2 separate regions of the Homo sapiens genome follow, and region 2 is linked to region 1. The links come from fine-mapping of genetic effects on gene expression. Tissue or cell type: whole blood. Region 1 holds a variant in brackets; the other region holds the start of a gene. All regions are shown on one strand. Distances are between the middles of the regions.

What was found. PIP is the estimated chance that this variant, and not a neighbour inherited with it, causes the effect.
Region 2: it holds the start of SSH2, and the variant in region 1 is fine-mapped to the expression of SSH2 in whole blood (INTERVAL, PIP above 0.99).

What each region holds. Positions count from the first base shown.
Region 1 is chr17:29,746,610-29,754,716 of GRCh38, forward strand. The region is part of intron 3 of SSH2 (slingshot protein phosphatase 2); the gene reads right to left. Among named protein-coding and RNA genes, the nearest start is that of SSH2-AS1, 110 kb to the left of the region's middle. The variant A/C (reference allele first, on the strand shown) is at 4,931.
Region 2 is chr17:29,927,089-29,935,183 of GRCh38, forward strand. SSH2 (slingshot protein phosphatase 2) reads right to left here and starts at 3,140. Exons shown (of 16, transcript NM_001282129.2): 1 at 2,850-3,140. The coding sequence starts at 2,912. It also overlaps a transcript of EFCAB5 not described here. RefSeq lists silencers at 2,340-2,389, 2,900-3,179, 3,330-3,419, 4,153-4,322, 6,283-6,577.

The sequences.
Region 1 (8,107 bases):
ACTTTTGATGTTCATGAGAACTGTGTATATTAACATTAAGAGAAAGAGTAACTTAAAAGGGACGTGGGTCAGAGGAGAGTCCTGAAGAAATGGCATCTCCCAAGAGCTCTGTTGTAAGTGATATTTATTTAAAATCAGAGGAAAAAAACTCTCATTCAATTTAGCCCTCATGGAGACTAACTGGTTTTTATGACACAAAATTCAGAGAACAGCAGAGACAAAAATGCACCAATAAGATGCCAAGCTCATAAACCTGACCAGCTTTTTGCTGGGGTGATGAAGTATGCTTAAAGTGTTGCTTAAGTTGCAAACAGATAAAGCCATATGTAGCATAAACTTTTCCGCAGTCACTACAGAAGACAATCAATATAAAGTCCACAATTAGAACGCTCAGGACTTGAAATATCCTGTTATGGATCACGAATATCCATGTAAATTTTGATGGATAAATATTAAGTACAGATGATAAAAGTAACAACCATAACTGGAATTTTTATTGTTATTTCTTGTGAATAATTATCTCACGTGATATCCAAAATGTCCTGAAATGAGGCAGGTACCATCCTCAAACAAACATATACAACAATTTAAATAGTTTAGTTCATTACCAAAAAAAATCAAATAATTCTACTTCTTCTACCCTGGAAACCTAAATTGTTACAACTTTTAAAGAAAGCTTATAATTGGCTAATACTGAGGCTTCTCTTTATTTAGGAGTGATTCAAACCTCTGGATTTTGTAGCTTTACCAAGTGTAACTAAGCCAAATCCCTCGAATTACTAAAAGAGGGGTTATACCCCTCTAAAAATAGATTAATGCAGAAAACACAAGTTGTTAAATTCACACAACATGCAAAAAGGGTGAGCCCAGATTTGCCCTTTGGTGTGCAACAAGAACAATCTATTTATAAATTACTGGCTACACCCTTTCCAAATTACAGGAACACCTAAAAAGGCCTTGATGTTCTTAGCATATTTCTTTAAGGTAAACTTAATTATGTTAGTTATACAGCAACCATCCTGTATCATTCAACGATGCAAAGCTAACTCTAACCCTAACTAAAAATAGGATACTGATTTTTTCTTTCCACCTTAGAAATTGTAAAGTATGTGAAAGATTCAGAAATTGTGTGATAACATCTACATCACTGTTCTTTAGCCCCAAGGCAGTTTAACATATGGTAGATTAAGAGGACTCCCATTTACTGGAAGGACCCAAGAGCAGATGGGAGCAAGATGATCTACAGCAGTTTCAGCCTCTCTATTATTGCGAGACCCAACAGCTCTTGGAAACAGAGACTGACAACATCTTTAGTTATTTGGCTTTGGGCAGTGTTTATCAGTGTTAAGTCTAGAGACACTTTCCAATTTCAGGAGTAAATATAGGTGAGCACAAAGGCAAATAGTAGTAGTTTAGAAAAAAAAAGAAATCCATTCTAGACTTATCAAAAAGAAATCTTGACTTGAGCACATCACTACCTTACCATTCCTGTTCATCTTCATTGTGCAGATTTACTTCTCAGTTAACTTGGCTAAGCATGATTCCAAGAAAGCCAAAGTTGAGAGCTCTTTTTTTATACCCCTCAGTTATAGGTTAATTACTGCTCTGCTGATTTTAAACAATCACAAGGGTGGATAAAGCCACAGAAAGTTACCACCAATAATAAAAACACAAATGCATCTTTATACTTTGACAGGGGATCATTAACTGTTCTTTCACATTTGAAGGCCATAACACCCAGAAGATTCACTAGATGTAAACCAATTTGATCACTTTCTTAAAAATACTAAATTTTAAGGCTATATTCTCTAAGGATCAAAAATAACCACAAAAAGTCAGTATTAATTTAAAATCAAAGAGGCATCTCGTACCTCTCTTAAATATTAATATTAGTCTCTTTATCCACCAAAAAGAGAAAAAAAAAGCCCTTAAACCATAAATGAATGCCTGGTTTCAATTACTCAATTATCAATTATTCAGTTATGCTTGCCCATTTCTGTAGAAGACAAGATCTAGATTTTAAGAGCATCACAGATGATAATTATATTTATTCAATGCAAACATGGAAATTTAAAAATGTGAGTGGTAAAAAAAATTCATAAAATAAAAAATACTTGGAATAAAACTTCTTGGTTCTAAGCTTTAAAATACAGATAATCCTACTACAGAGCTGTTTCAGAGCACAGAAAAAAATGAAAAACTACCCAAATCATTCTGTAAATCAGACATAAGCTGGACGAAGACAGCAAAGATTCAATAAATATTTAGATCCCTAAATGCAAAACCTTAAATATTTGTAAACCAAGCCTAGCAATATGTTAAATGAATAACGCAAAAAGGGTGTAGTTCAGTTATGTAAGGATGATTCAACTTCAATAATTCAATGTGTCATTACATTAGCAGTAAAGGGGAAAATATTATTCCGTAGATATAAAAAAGCAGTCAGTAAAATTCAACTATACCTAACTGAAAAATCTTTGTAAATTAGCAATAGTAAGAAATGGCCTCAGCTTGATAAATGATCTGTGCCAGAACCTACACCACACAGTATACTCATTTACAACACATAAGAAGCCTTCTTTTCACACAAGCCCACTAGTATCGCACTACTTAACATTAGAAGGCCTAACCAAAGCAATGAGAGTTATAAATACAGTCATGCATCACTTAATGACAGGAATACATTCTGAGAAATTCATCATTAGGCAAGTTTATCATTGCGTGAACATCATAGAGTATACTTACACAAACCTAGATGGTACAGCCTACTACACACCTTGGCTGGCTATATGGGATAACCATATAGGTGGAAAACCTGTACAGCATGTTACTATACTGAATACTGTAGGCCAACTGTAACATAATGTTAAGTATTTGTATCTCTAAACATATCTACGCATAGAAAAGGCACAGTAAAAATGTGGTATAGAAGATAAAAAGTGGTACACCTGTAAGGGGCACTTACAATCAATGGAGCTTGCAGGACTGGAAGTTGCTCTGGGTGAGTCAGTGAGGGAGTGGCGAGTGAATGTGAAGACCTAGGACATGACTGTAACTACTGTGGACTTTATAAACACCATACACTTAGGCTACACTAAATTTATTTTAAAAACTTATTTTTTCTTGTTTGTTTTTTGAGATGGAGTCTTACTCTGTTGCCAGGCTGGAGTACAGTGGCATGATCTCGGCTCACTGCAATCTCTGCCTCCTGGGCTCAAGAGATTCTCCTGCCTCAGTCTCCTGAGTAGCTGAGATTACAGGTGCCCGCCACCACGCCCGATTAATTTTTGAATTTTTAGTAGAGGCGAGGTTTCACCATGTTGGCCAGGCTTGTCTCAAACTTGAGGCTAGACCTCAAGTGATCTGCTCACCTTGGCCTCCCGAAGTGCTGGGATTACAGGTGTTGAGCCATTGCACCCAGCCAAATGTTCTCTTTTTTCAACAATAACTTTATCTTACAGTAACTTTTTAACTTTATAAACTTTATAATTATTTTAACTTTTTGGCTCTTTTGTAATAATACTTAGCTTAAAACACAGAAAAACTGGCCGGGAGGGGTGGCTCATGCCTGTAATCCCAGCACTTTGGGAGGCCAAGGTGGGTGGATCACTTGAGGTCAGGAGTTCGAGATCAGCCTGGCCAACATGGCGAAACCCCATCTCTACCACAAAATATACAAATTAGCCAGGCGTGGTGGCACGCACCTGTAATCCCAGCTACTTGGAAGGCTGAGGCAGGAGAATCACTTGAACACAGGAGGTGGAGGTGGCAGCGAGCCGAGATCATGCTACTGCACTCCAGCATGGGCAACTGAGTGAGACTCTGTCTCAAAAAAAAAAAAAAATTTTTTTTTAAATAAATAAAAATAAAAAACAGAAAAATTGTACAAATATACAAAAATATTTTCTTTATATGCTCCTCCTCCTTCTTCTTCTAAGAGACAGCATCTCCTCTGTTGCCCAGGCTGCAGTGGCACAATCATGGCTCACTGCAGCCTCAAACTCCTGGGTTCAAGTGATCCTCCTGCCTCAGCCCCCAGAGTAGCTGGGATTACAGGCACAAGCTACTGTGCATGGCTATACCTTTATTCCATAAGCTTTTCTATTTTTAAAATGTATTTTTTTGGCCGGGTGTGGTGGCTCATGCCTGTAATCTCAGCACTTTGGGAAGCTGAGGCGGGCAGATCACCAGGTCAAGAGATTGAGACCATCCTGGTCAACACGGTGAAACCCCATCTCTACCAAAAATACAAAAAAAAAAAAAAAAGTATTTTTTTTTACTCTTGAAACTTTTTTGTTAAAGACACAAACACACACGCTAGCTTAGGCCTAAAGAGTCAGGATCATCAAGATCATTGTTTTCCATCTCCATATCTTGCCACACTGGAAGGTCTTCAAGGGCAATAACATATATGGAGCTGTCATCTCCTATGATAACAATGCCTTCTTTTAGAATACTTCCTGAAGGACCTGCCTGAGGCAGCTTTACAGTTAATATTTTCTTCAAAGTAGAGAGTACACTGTAGGCCAGGCGCAGTGGCTCATGCCTGTAATCCCAGCACTCTGGGAGGCCGAGGCGGGTGGATCACCTGAGGTCCAGAGTTCGAGACCAGCCTGATCAACATAGTGAAACCCCATCTCTACTAAAAATACAAAAGTAGCCAGGTGTGGTGGTGCATGCCTCTAATCCCAGCTACTTGGGAGGCTGAGGCAAGAGAATCATTTGAACCCAGGAGGTGGAGGTTGCAGTGAGCTGAGATTGTGCAATTGCAATGCAGCCTGGGCAACAAGAGCGTAACTCCTGTCTCAAAAAAAAAGAAAAAAAAACAAAGAAAGAGAGTCCACTCTACAATACTGATAAAATGTTCAATACAGTAAATACATAAACCAGCAACGCAGTCGCTTATTATCAAGCATTATGTACTGTACAT[A/C]ACTGTATGCACTATATTTTTATACAACAATGCAGGTTTGTTTGCACCAGCATCACCACAAACACATGAGTAATACATTATGCTACGACATTATGACAGCTATAGTCACTAGGTGATTTTTCATCCCCATTATAATCTTATGGGACCACTTCTGTATCTGTGGTCTGTTATTGACCAAAATGTTGTTATGTGGTGCATAACTGCACTCAGAGAGATAAAATTCATTTACAGATAATATAATCATCCATGAAGAAAAGTCAATAAAATCAAGTAAAAACATATACTAGATATTAGAACCAAGTAAGAGTTTTAGCAAGGTGGTCTGATATAAAAGCAAATATCAAAAGTGATAGTTTTATCACCCACCTGCTGTAACTAATTAGAAAACGTCATGGGAAAGTGGAGCTTATTCACAAGAGCAACAAAAACCTTATAAAATGCCCATGAATATACCTAATAAGAAATGTGTGATTACCATATAAGGAAAACTGTACAATTTAAATGAAGAATATTTAAAAAACAGTGAATAATAGATCCATACATCACATTCTTCATTGGGCAGGCTCATTTTGTAAAACTGTTAATTTTCTCCAAAATTAATTCAGTAAAATTTCAATCAAAATCCTAATACAATTTTTAAAAGTGAAAATTGATAAGCTGATTCTAAGATTTATCTGGAAAATAAAATAAAAATAGTTAGGACACTGAAAAATACCAACAAGGAGGTAAAGCACTGGCATACATTTGTCTACTAAAGGTGTAATAAGTAAAATGAGTACTGGCATATGAACAGAAAAACATGAACAGAACTTAAGAGTACAGAAGTGTACTCCAAGCATCTGTAAGAATTTAATATATATGTAGCATTTCAAATTAGTGAAGTAAGAATGTAAATAATGGTAAATTTGGTATTAGAATAACTATCCAATTGGAAAAAAAAGGTTAAGCTAGATTTTTCCCTCACACTATAAATAAAAATAAATTCCAGATGTTTTAAAGAGTTAAATATTTAAAAATGTAAACATGCCAGAAAAAATATAAAATAACACTTTGAGAATCCTGAGGATGAATGGCAAGAGGTTTTTAAAAAGCAACATGCAAAATCTTGAAATCATAAGATAAAATACAACAGATTTGACTATATAAAAATGTAAAACTTTTATATGGGACGCAAAGTTAAAAGTCAAGCAATAGGCTAGGAGAAAGTATTTTTGCCACATACTCAGAATATATAGAGAACATAAAAAAGAAAAAAGCCAAATATCAATAGAAAAATGGTCAGAAGCACACTCAAATCACAGAAAAAAAAAAAACCAAAAAGATCAGTTACACATAAAAAGATGCTACACCTCCATAGCAATAAGGGGAATTGTAAATAGAGAGGTATTTAAGAGCAGGGACTCTGGAGTCTGACTGCCTGTGTATGCATCCTGGCTGGATAATCTCAGACAAGTTAACCTCTCTGTGCCTCTCTTCTGTAATTGAGGATAATATCTAACTCATAAAGTTGTTAAGAAGAGAGAATGAAATAATATATCCACTGCTCAAAACAGTGTCCCTTAGATAGTAAATGTTCAGTAAAAAATTATCTGCCTTTTTTAAATTTTTTGAGACGGAGTCTTGCTCAGTCACCCGGGCTGGAGTGCAACAGCATGAACTTGGCTCACGGCAACCTCTGCCTCCTGGGTTCAAGCGATTCTCCCTCCTCAGCCTCCCGAGTAGGTGGGATTACAGGCACCCACCATCATGCCCAGCTAATTTTTGTATTTTTGTAGAGATGGGGTTTCACCATGTTGTCCAGGCTGGTCTCGAACTCCTGACCTCAGGTGATACCCCCAACCTCAGCCTCCCAAAGTGCTGGGATTATAGGTGTGAGCCACTGCGCCCGGCTTATCTGCTATTAATGTTATTATTGGGGTTGGTGAAGATATAGGGAAAGATATGCCTACACACTGCTGGTTAAGAGCAAATTGGTGGCCAGGTGCGGTGCCTCACGTCTGTACTCCCAGCACTTTGGGAGGCCGAGGCAGGTGGATCACGAGGTCAGGGGTTCGAGACCAGCCTGACCAAACATGGTGAAACCCCGTCTGTACTAAAAATACAAAAATTAGCTGGGCGTGGTGGCGGGCACCTGTAATCCCAGCTACTCAGGAGGCTGAGGCAGAATTGCTTGAACCTGGGAGGCAGAGGTTGCAGTGAGTTGAGATCGTGCCACTGTACTCCAGCCTGGGCGATAGAGTGAGACTCTGTCTGAAAAAAAAAAAAAAAAAGAACAAATTGGTAAAGTCTTTTTAGAAAGCAATTTGGCTATATGTATCAAATTTTTAACATATATACAACATTAGGTCCAGCAATTCCACCGCTAGAAATTTATCTAAAGAAATGTTTACATATGTATACAAAGATGTGTGTATCAGGATTGTGAGTGCAGCACTACAGGAGCTCTGGATTCAGAGACAAGAAATGCTTGTTCTAGTTTCAGTTCTACCATCAAGCCATGTAGCCTTGTGCAAATCACTTCAGCATTTTGATTCTCTAGTTTGTTATGCTATAAAATGTGGACGATGACTTGCCCAATCTGCCTCAGAGGAATACTTTAATTAAGGTAGGGTCCTTAGGCCATCATCATCAGCATCATCTAGGAACTTGTTAGAAATGCAAATTCTCCAGCCACATCCTAGACTTACAGAATCAGAAACTCTGGGGACTGTGGGTAGCAATTTGTGTTTTACCAAGCCCTCCAGGTGATTCTGATGCAAGCTTAAGTTTGGAGATAAGTTCATGTGAAACCCCTTGTACAACTACAAAGTGGAACTGAAAGAGCATTAGTACTATTACTAATACAAAAAATAAGACTTTCTACCTTTTGATTTCATGAAAAGGTACATTTTGGATGAACATCCAATATGCTCCTCTACTGCTGACGCTGAGCCTTAGAAAGCACTCATGTGCTTCTAGGAAGTCAAGTTCATATATGAACCAAGTAAATAAATAAAAATATTTTAGGTCAAGTATATAAAAAGCTTAAGATAACCTCAACAGCAAATCAAGCAATGTTTCAGTGCCTTAGTTTCAAGACAAGACTTTTTTGATCAGAGGTTTTCATAATGGGAATATTTTATTTTATTTTTATTTATTTATTTTTGAGACAGGGTTTTGCTCTGTTGCCCAGGCTGA
Region 2 (8,095 bases), 180 kb after region 1:
TAAATGAATTAATTCATGTAAAGCGCTTAACATGATGCCTGGCATAGATGAGGACCCAAGAAATGTTAGATATTGTTATACTCTTATTATTAACATTGCCATTAGTGAACTTATCTTAATCTGAATTCAGACAATACTTATGACCATCACAAACTCTTCAGGTACCTACAGTATCATTCCCCTTCTTCTTCTTTTCCCTCTTACCTTATGTTTGTTCTTCCTCCAATGCCCCAGCCCCCCAGATTGCAAGATCCTGATGAACAGGTCAATTTCCTATACATCTTAGTATCTACAATGGTCACTCACACCTAGCATATTGTTTAATGCCTAATGAAACAACACTAAAGAGCTGGCAGTATTAAAATGCCCTGCATCCTATAGTGTAAAAGTATTAACAGCGTACTTAAAGTGATTAATAAAAAAATGTAAATTTCCAGTCTCACAAAATTAAATCTCTTCTTTCATGGTCCTCTAGGTTCTTTTTGCTCTCTATTTTAAAACAAACAACCCAACCTATTCATACAGCAAGAGATAGAACAGCAAAATATATGGAGGTCAGACAGCAGCCAAATGCTAGAGTACAAGGACCTCGAAACAACTCAGCTGAACACAATTCTGGATGAAGTCCAATAGGAAGACAATTTAAAGAGAAAGGAAGCTGGCTTATCAGTTATACTAATGATGCTGATTGTTACACCAGCCTTAGGATTCCTTTGCATTCAGGGCCAAGTATAAACAACTGAAATAACCAGGCTAGTAGATATAGAAATATTAGTGATTTTGCTCAACAACTGAGCTTATTACATGATCAATTTAATTACCTATGTCAAAAGTGACTATTAACATACCTCAAGATTCTAAAGTAACTCAAGTTTTGGCTAATGAAGTCATATCAAGTGTACACGGTCTTACTGTATACTAATCATTCACTTCAAGTAAATTAGTATGATGACAACTTGATATACATATATTATCATAGCATAAGCTATTTTCAACAGTGCCCAAGGAAAATAAATGTTACTATAGTACTGATTTCTAGTTTATTTGCATGACTCTACTAACTTTCAATCGATTTCTTCAAAATCAGGCCTAGTAACCACAAACCAAAGAGTTTACTAGTGGAGTGAATTAAGAAGGTTTGATGGTATGTTAATGACTTTCCAAAAACTAGCATAAAGTACTACACATAAGAATAAATTATATTAAAGATTTATTCCTATGATACTTGTCTTCAGATGACCCTAAAATGTTTTACCAGCTTTGAAGTACAAGTATTCTCAAATCACAAAATCTTAGATTAGAAATAGTCTTAGAAGTCCCCCACTGCAGGAATTCTTTATACCACCTCCCAGGCAAAATGTTCTCCAGCCTTTGCTTGAATATTTCCAGCAATGTGCACTCACTATTTTGCAAGGCAGTGCACTCCACTGTTACAAATTCTTCCTTACAATCACTGGAAATCTGCCTCCCTGAACCAAGAATCCCAGTTCTGCTCTCTGAAACAACACAAGATATATAACCTTTGAAATAAAATCACTTATTAAGATATAGTTGTCAATTTCATCACACAAAATGCAATTAAAGCTCAGAAAAGAAGAAACCACAACCATACACAACAAAACTTTGAAATTCAGGAAATTATACTGAAATGACAAGCCAGCAAATTTCAGGATATCAAAGCTCACACCTCAGTTAACATACAAATATTAAGGGTAACCTGATGATTTTTTTACAGTGGAAAGTGGTACAGTGTTTATTAAATACCTTTTTTTGCAACCTGATACTACCAAATCCACCAACACCGTTTTTAAAATTACAGTTCTGTAGGAAGTTCAAGGTGGTTTTCCCAGTTGCTCGCATTTTCACTCAGTTTATTTCTCTCTAAAACATCTGGATGTTGGTTTTTTAAAGCCCATTTGCCCCACTGGTGCAATATATTGTTTTTAAAAATAAATATTTTCAAAAATGGAGCCTAAGAGAATGGAGTGTAAACGAATGGGGGTGGGGCGAGGAGAGAAGGCAAAGACGGGCCCAGCGGGGAAAGGCTGGTTACTGGGTATTTTCCTTCTGAGAGCATGCTTTATTGGCATAGGCATCTGAGGTAACGAGCCATACAAACACGACCTTAGAACAAGAATGATCACGAGCAATGAGTGTAAGGCATAAATATCTGTAAGACGGAAATAATTTGACACTGATCACTAAGCAGCACCAGATGCTTCGGGACCTCATAAAGGAAAGGTAAGAGGTCCAGGAAACAGAGATCATTGCTACCCTCTGGGGTGGGGGGCAGGCGGGAGAAACCAAGGAATAACTACGGTTGGGCAGTTCAAAGCCTGAACAGTACAGAGCAAAAGAAAGCCAGCAAGTGACTAGGGGAAGGCACACACCCTGGCGAGTACGAAGAAGGGTGTGCAGTGTGCAAATACTGAACAGGTCTATGAAATGGTGTGGGTAAGAGATGTGGGTGTGGGTAAGGGGCAACGCAGGAGGCTCACGGTCCCCTCCCTGCAGCAGAGCAACAGAGGGTAAAAGAAGGGGGAGGGTGAAAAGCAAGAATGACTCATTACCAAAAGGAAGTGCTCAAGCCATAGGGAGGCATGCCACAGGGGATTTCAGGGCGAGGATTGTGAGGAGCTAGGTGCTCAGGGTGATGGGGGCAAAAATCAACGTCTTGTAGTTCCTGCTGCTAGTCTTTAACATGGGGGTGTGGGGGGGTTCGCGGCAGCCGAGTGCCAAGGCCTGGGAAGCGGCGCGGCGCGTGCGCAGTGGCGTTCGGCGGGACCCGCTGAGGCAAAGCGGAGCCGCAGTGACAGAAGCAAGCGGAGCGGCCGCCAGGAAGGACTCACCGAGGCGCAGGGGCTGGAGGTGGTGCTGGGGGTAGGTGACCGCTGGACCGTGACCAAAGCCATCTAGGCGCTGCTGGGTTGTTCCGGGCAGGGCATTCTTGTCCTGAGTGTGGGGGACGGGAGGGTGACGGAGCCGGGATGGGGAAAGGGGTGCGGGGTGGGGGTGAAGGGAACGGGGAGGAGGAGGAGGCCGCGGGAACGGCCGCAGACTCCGCACCCACCACCAGACTGTCGCCGACTGACGCTCCGAACGGGCGGCGGGCGGGCGGTTCCGCAGCTGCGGGGCACAATGAGCGCTCCCAGTGCGCAGGCGCCACCTGTCAGCTACCGCCTCTCCCCTCGGCGCGCGCCGCCGCCTGGTCGTAACCCTTGAGTTGCCGGAAGCTGGCCGAGTGCGTGCGCCTCGGGCCGCCGCACCCTCCTGGGTTTCCTCCTTCGTGCTGGAATCGCGCGGTTTGCCAGCACTGGGTGCTGTGGAGTGGGGTGGGGGAAGGGGCCGAAGGGAGCCAGCCCGGTGAGGGGTCCCAGGGCGGGGGGCCGCTGGAGTCTTCACTCCTGAGAGACAACCATTTTATGAGGTGGGGCGGCGCACAGCTTAACCAACCTTAAAAAAAAGCAGCTGAGATGAAAATCCTGAAGCAAACACGTTTTCTATTGGGAAAGGGCTCCGCGGAGTTTCAAACCCTCTCACTGGGCGCAGACAGAACTGGGCTAGACCAGTTTACTCCCTTCACCCCGGCTCTCGGGGGCTTTTTCTTAACTTTTCCCCCCCTTCCGTCTATGTTTTATGATGAGACTTCTGGAAAGAAAACCATTTTCCGTTTGATACCCTGGAAAGGTTTGTGGTACCCTCATGCTTCCTCTATTGCCTGTCTAAAGACTTATTCATTATTCCTGAGGAGAAGAGAAGCTGAGCGCGCCTGGGAGTCCGAGGAAGCCGGTTGTGAGGGTCCAGCCTGCTATTGACCTCTCACTTGCCTCCTGCTGTGAAGACAGTCTTTTAATTAAACAGGATTTGCTCGTTAAGCTTTCTTCTCCTTCGTCTCTAAATGTCATTCTTTCATAGACCTATGTAAAAATGTAGATTAAAAGATATTTTAAGGGAATGGTTTTCTCAGGGGTAAATTGTCTGCAGAACATAAGCAAAGAATGTAATGGAAAATCAAGATTAAAAAGGAAAAAAATTGCACAATGCAAATATCACTGATTATTTACACAAAGAAAGAGAGTTGACAAGGCTATTTCTCAGCTTGAGTGGATGAGCTGGTAAATACCACCGTACATATCAAAGCTGTAGAAAACACACACACTTGGGAGTTTGCAGTTATTAAAACCCACCCCCTCCTGTTTGTCACTCAAACACTCTTGGATCTCATTGCTTCTTTTAAACTGACAGGGCTGTCATGAGCTCTTTCTGGCTGCTGTACGGTTAAACGCCACAAGAGTCCTCTGTGCTGAGCCTTTGTTCTCTCCCTGGGGCCCTGTGGTTGAAATAATTAGCAGGGAGGTTCCATCAAGAATCAGACACTGAGGGTCCCTGTACTGTACAGTCCTATGTAGAGTGTAGTGCAGAGAAGCCAGCTGGTAGGCTTTTGCCCCCTGGTGGTGATCAGGAGTGCCTGTGAGACAAAATTAAACAAAGATGTATGGTTCACAGATTAAACAATCTGACTGTGTTTTCCCCAGAGCTCCGTAGTAAACAGGAAAAGAGAAGGCAAGTTTCAGAAGTAAGAACTTTGAACCAATGCATGGGAGACCAAAGAGGAAACTAGATACATAGCCAAAAAATACACATAGCTAGAAGCTGAATGAACTCAAATAAATGAAATATATGTGCTTTATGAACCAAAGTATCATTCTAGAAAAAGTAATATTCAAATCTGTAGGTCTTAGTACTTGTATGTTGATTCTCTGACTCAGGGAGGGCAACAATGATGTTCTACTTTTTCATGGTAACATACTCTTCAGAAATTCTTTTGGAAGATGAAAGGCTTAAGTCCATTAACCTTGCAGTGAGAAAGAGCACTACCATAGGAATCAGAAGACCTGGTTTCTAGTTCCAGCTCTAAAACCTTATGCAAATGGCTTGAACTTTTTGAGCTTTAATTCCTTTATCTCTACAATGGAACCCTAACTGACAAGATTCTTGAGATAATGTATGGTAAAGTTCAGAATAAACTGTAAATAAAGCCCTCTATGCAATTAAGATAACTTTTTTTTTTTTTTTTTTTGAGACGGAGTCTCCCTTTGCCACCCAGGCTGGAGTGCAGTGGTGCAATCTCGGCTCACTGCAACCTCCGCCTCCCGGGTTCAAGCAATTCTCCTGCCTCAGCCTCCCGAGTAGCTGGGATTACAGGGGCCCGCCACCACACCCGGCTAGTTTTTATATTTTTAGTAGGGACGGGGTTTCACCGTATTGGCCAGGCTGGTCTCGAACTCCTGTCCTCAAGTGATCTGCCCACCTCGGCCTCCCAAAGTGCTAGGATTACAGATGTGAGCCACTGTGCCCGGCTTTTTTTTTTTTTTTTTTTTTTTGACACGGATTTTTGCTCTTGTTGCCCAGGCTGGAGTGCAATGGCACCATCTCAGCTCACTGCAACCTCCACCTCCCGGGTTCAAGCTATTCTCCTGTCTCAGCCTCCTGAGTAGCTGGGATTACAGGCATGTGCCACCACGCCCGGCTAATTTTATGTCTTTTTAGTAGATATGGGGGTTTCACCATGTTGGTCAGGCTGGTCTCGAACTCCTGACCCCAGATGATCCACCTGCCTTGGCCTCACAAAGTGCTGGGATTACAGGTGTGAGCCCCCGCACCCGGCCATCATTCTTTTTCTTAATAGTAGAAGTAGATTAGTGGTCAAGACATGTTTCATCTGTAGGTAAGTGTGGAACATTTTTGTTCCACATATCTAAGGTGATAAAATCCTGATCAAAATTGAATTATGGGATGACAAAATTCACATTGTTTGTATCAGGAAGTTAATTTATTAATTTTCAGGGGAAATATCTCTTCCTGGTATATACCTTTTAAGGAAACTAAGATTTGGAAATTATTGGTGCATGTTCATTAATTTATTTACTAATAATTGAGAAAATATTTATTGAATGTGTATCATATACTAGACACTGCTTTAAGAACAAGACAAATGTTTATCTACCTCTTAGGGGCTCAAAGCCAATTAGTAGGGGAAAACACATCAACAAATAATTAGAGCGTAGCTTAGTGGTACCATGGCTTCTGTCACCTCGGCTAGGCGCGAAAGGAGGTATGTAGAAATATAGAAGAAGTCTATATACGTACAAAGTTCTATAGAAACAAAGGAGAGAAGGTCTGGGCAAATGTGCTCTTTATGATATTGGCTTTCAGGCTTTGTCTGCAGATCCCAGTACAGTCGCTTTGCGAACGGAGCTGGACCACACTAAGCATTTGATGAAATCTATGCTTTGTGCCCCATTTATACCTAATTTCCCTAGGCTCCACCCTGGTTCCTCCTAGGTCTTCTGGTGAACTGAGAGAGGAGATATCTTCTAATAGAGTGAAGAGCCTAGGATCCTCTTACTATTCTAGCTGAATTTGAGGAGAGAGAGGCCAAGAGCAGGATTCCCAAAAGAGGGAGCCAAAGAGACAAAAGTCCTCCTAGTTCTACTTAGAGCACTTTCACTCTTCCCACCTGCGATGCTGGAGGCCTGGTTGTACCACTGGAGTCCATTTAACCCTTAACTTGTATCAATACTTCTTCCGGGGTGAAATTATAGGGGAGCTTGAAATCTCTGAGGTTAGCTGGTTCTCAAGCTTTGAGAACCTGATGAAAACTATTGACCTTCTCTCCAGAAAAATGTACTTGCATATTTCTCATACCTACTAAAACCTATCAAGGAACCAAGGTGAAGAATCCTGATCTAAATGTTAAAGGGGTGGTTCTCTACCTTTTTTTTCCACATCATGACATCCATAGAAATAGTATTTGTACAGCACACTGGGATAAATTAAAGGGGATTTGGAGGCAGCTAATTACATGGGGCTTGGTGAAAAAAATTGTTTCTTTATATTACTTACTTTTAATGACAAAAATAAACATATTAAGGATGACACTAAATATTGAATTTGTATACATTTCCAAACAAAGATGTCTAAAAATTTAATGAAAAACCTGAGATTGCTTCTGTAAACATAACATTTTTTATACAGGATTTTATGATTGAAATGACGGCTTGCAGTTCTTGAATGAGACAGTTTAACAGTGATGTCTTCAAATTCTTGGTAGTCATTATTGATGAGAATTTAGTTCATACAAGTAGGTGATAAAAAAACTTTTAAACAATTTTCACAACAATTCAAAATTTAAAAGTATAAATTATAATTGATAATATATCCACATTATCACAGGGTATTTCCTCGTTACATTTGCCAATGGGAATTTCCCCATCTACCCAAACACTTTTTGTGTCAAGTATCTATTGCAAAATATTGATAAAGGTCTAATTTGCAGAGTTAGATTGTGTTATTAGATCAATAATTCTTCATCTAACTTGAACATAATTAAAAGGGCGCATCAGATATAAACAAAAGGAAGAATGCTATATATATAAAAAGAGAGATCATAAGCTGAGTTCATCAGGAGTACCTAGCAGGCCTCCCTGCATTTCCTGGCCTTATCTGAGGCTGTAAGTCCTGCTCTTTTGGTACCTGGAACATCCTCCAAAGCTCAGTGTTTACAATAGGCAGCAGTGTGTACTACAATTGTCTTGTGAAAGTGATGACCTGGTGGTAGAATACTCCTTGGCTTTGCTTGGCAAGAACTTCATTGTGCTGTCCACCAGTGGGACCATGGGCATACTAGGGTGGGTATTCACACCCTGATTTTGGGGGGCTGCTGAGAATCTCTAGATCACACTGCTTCTTGCCAGGAGTGAATTACCTAGATTTATCAACCACTCCAGTTATTTTAAGTAACTCCTCAGGCTGAATAGATCCCTATCTTGCAATATATCTATAACTCATTCATTGCATACCAAATGAAGTATTTCACTTAAAAGATTATGACTTATATAGCTAAGCTTAAGACAGAGCAAAAAAAAAGTGAGTCAAAAAAAAAGACACAAGAAATCATGGTCCTATCCTTGATAATCCAATCCCTTATATTTGAAACAATTTGGGCATAATTATAAGTATAAATTAATATAGCACAGATATATAAGAGCTGAGAGCAACTGCAGTATTATTGAGTCATGTGTTGCCTTCACTT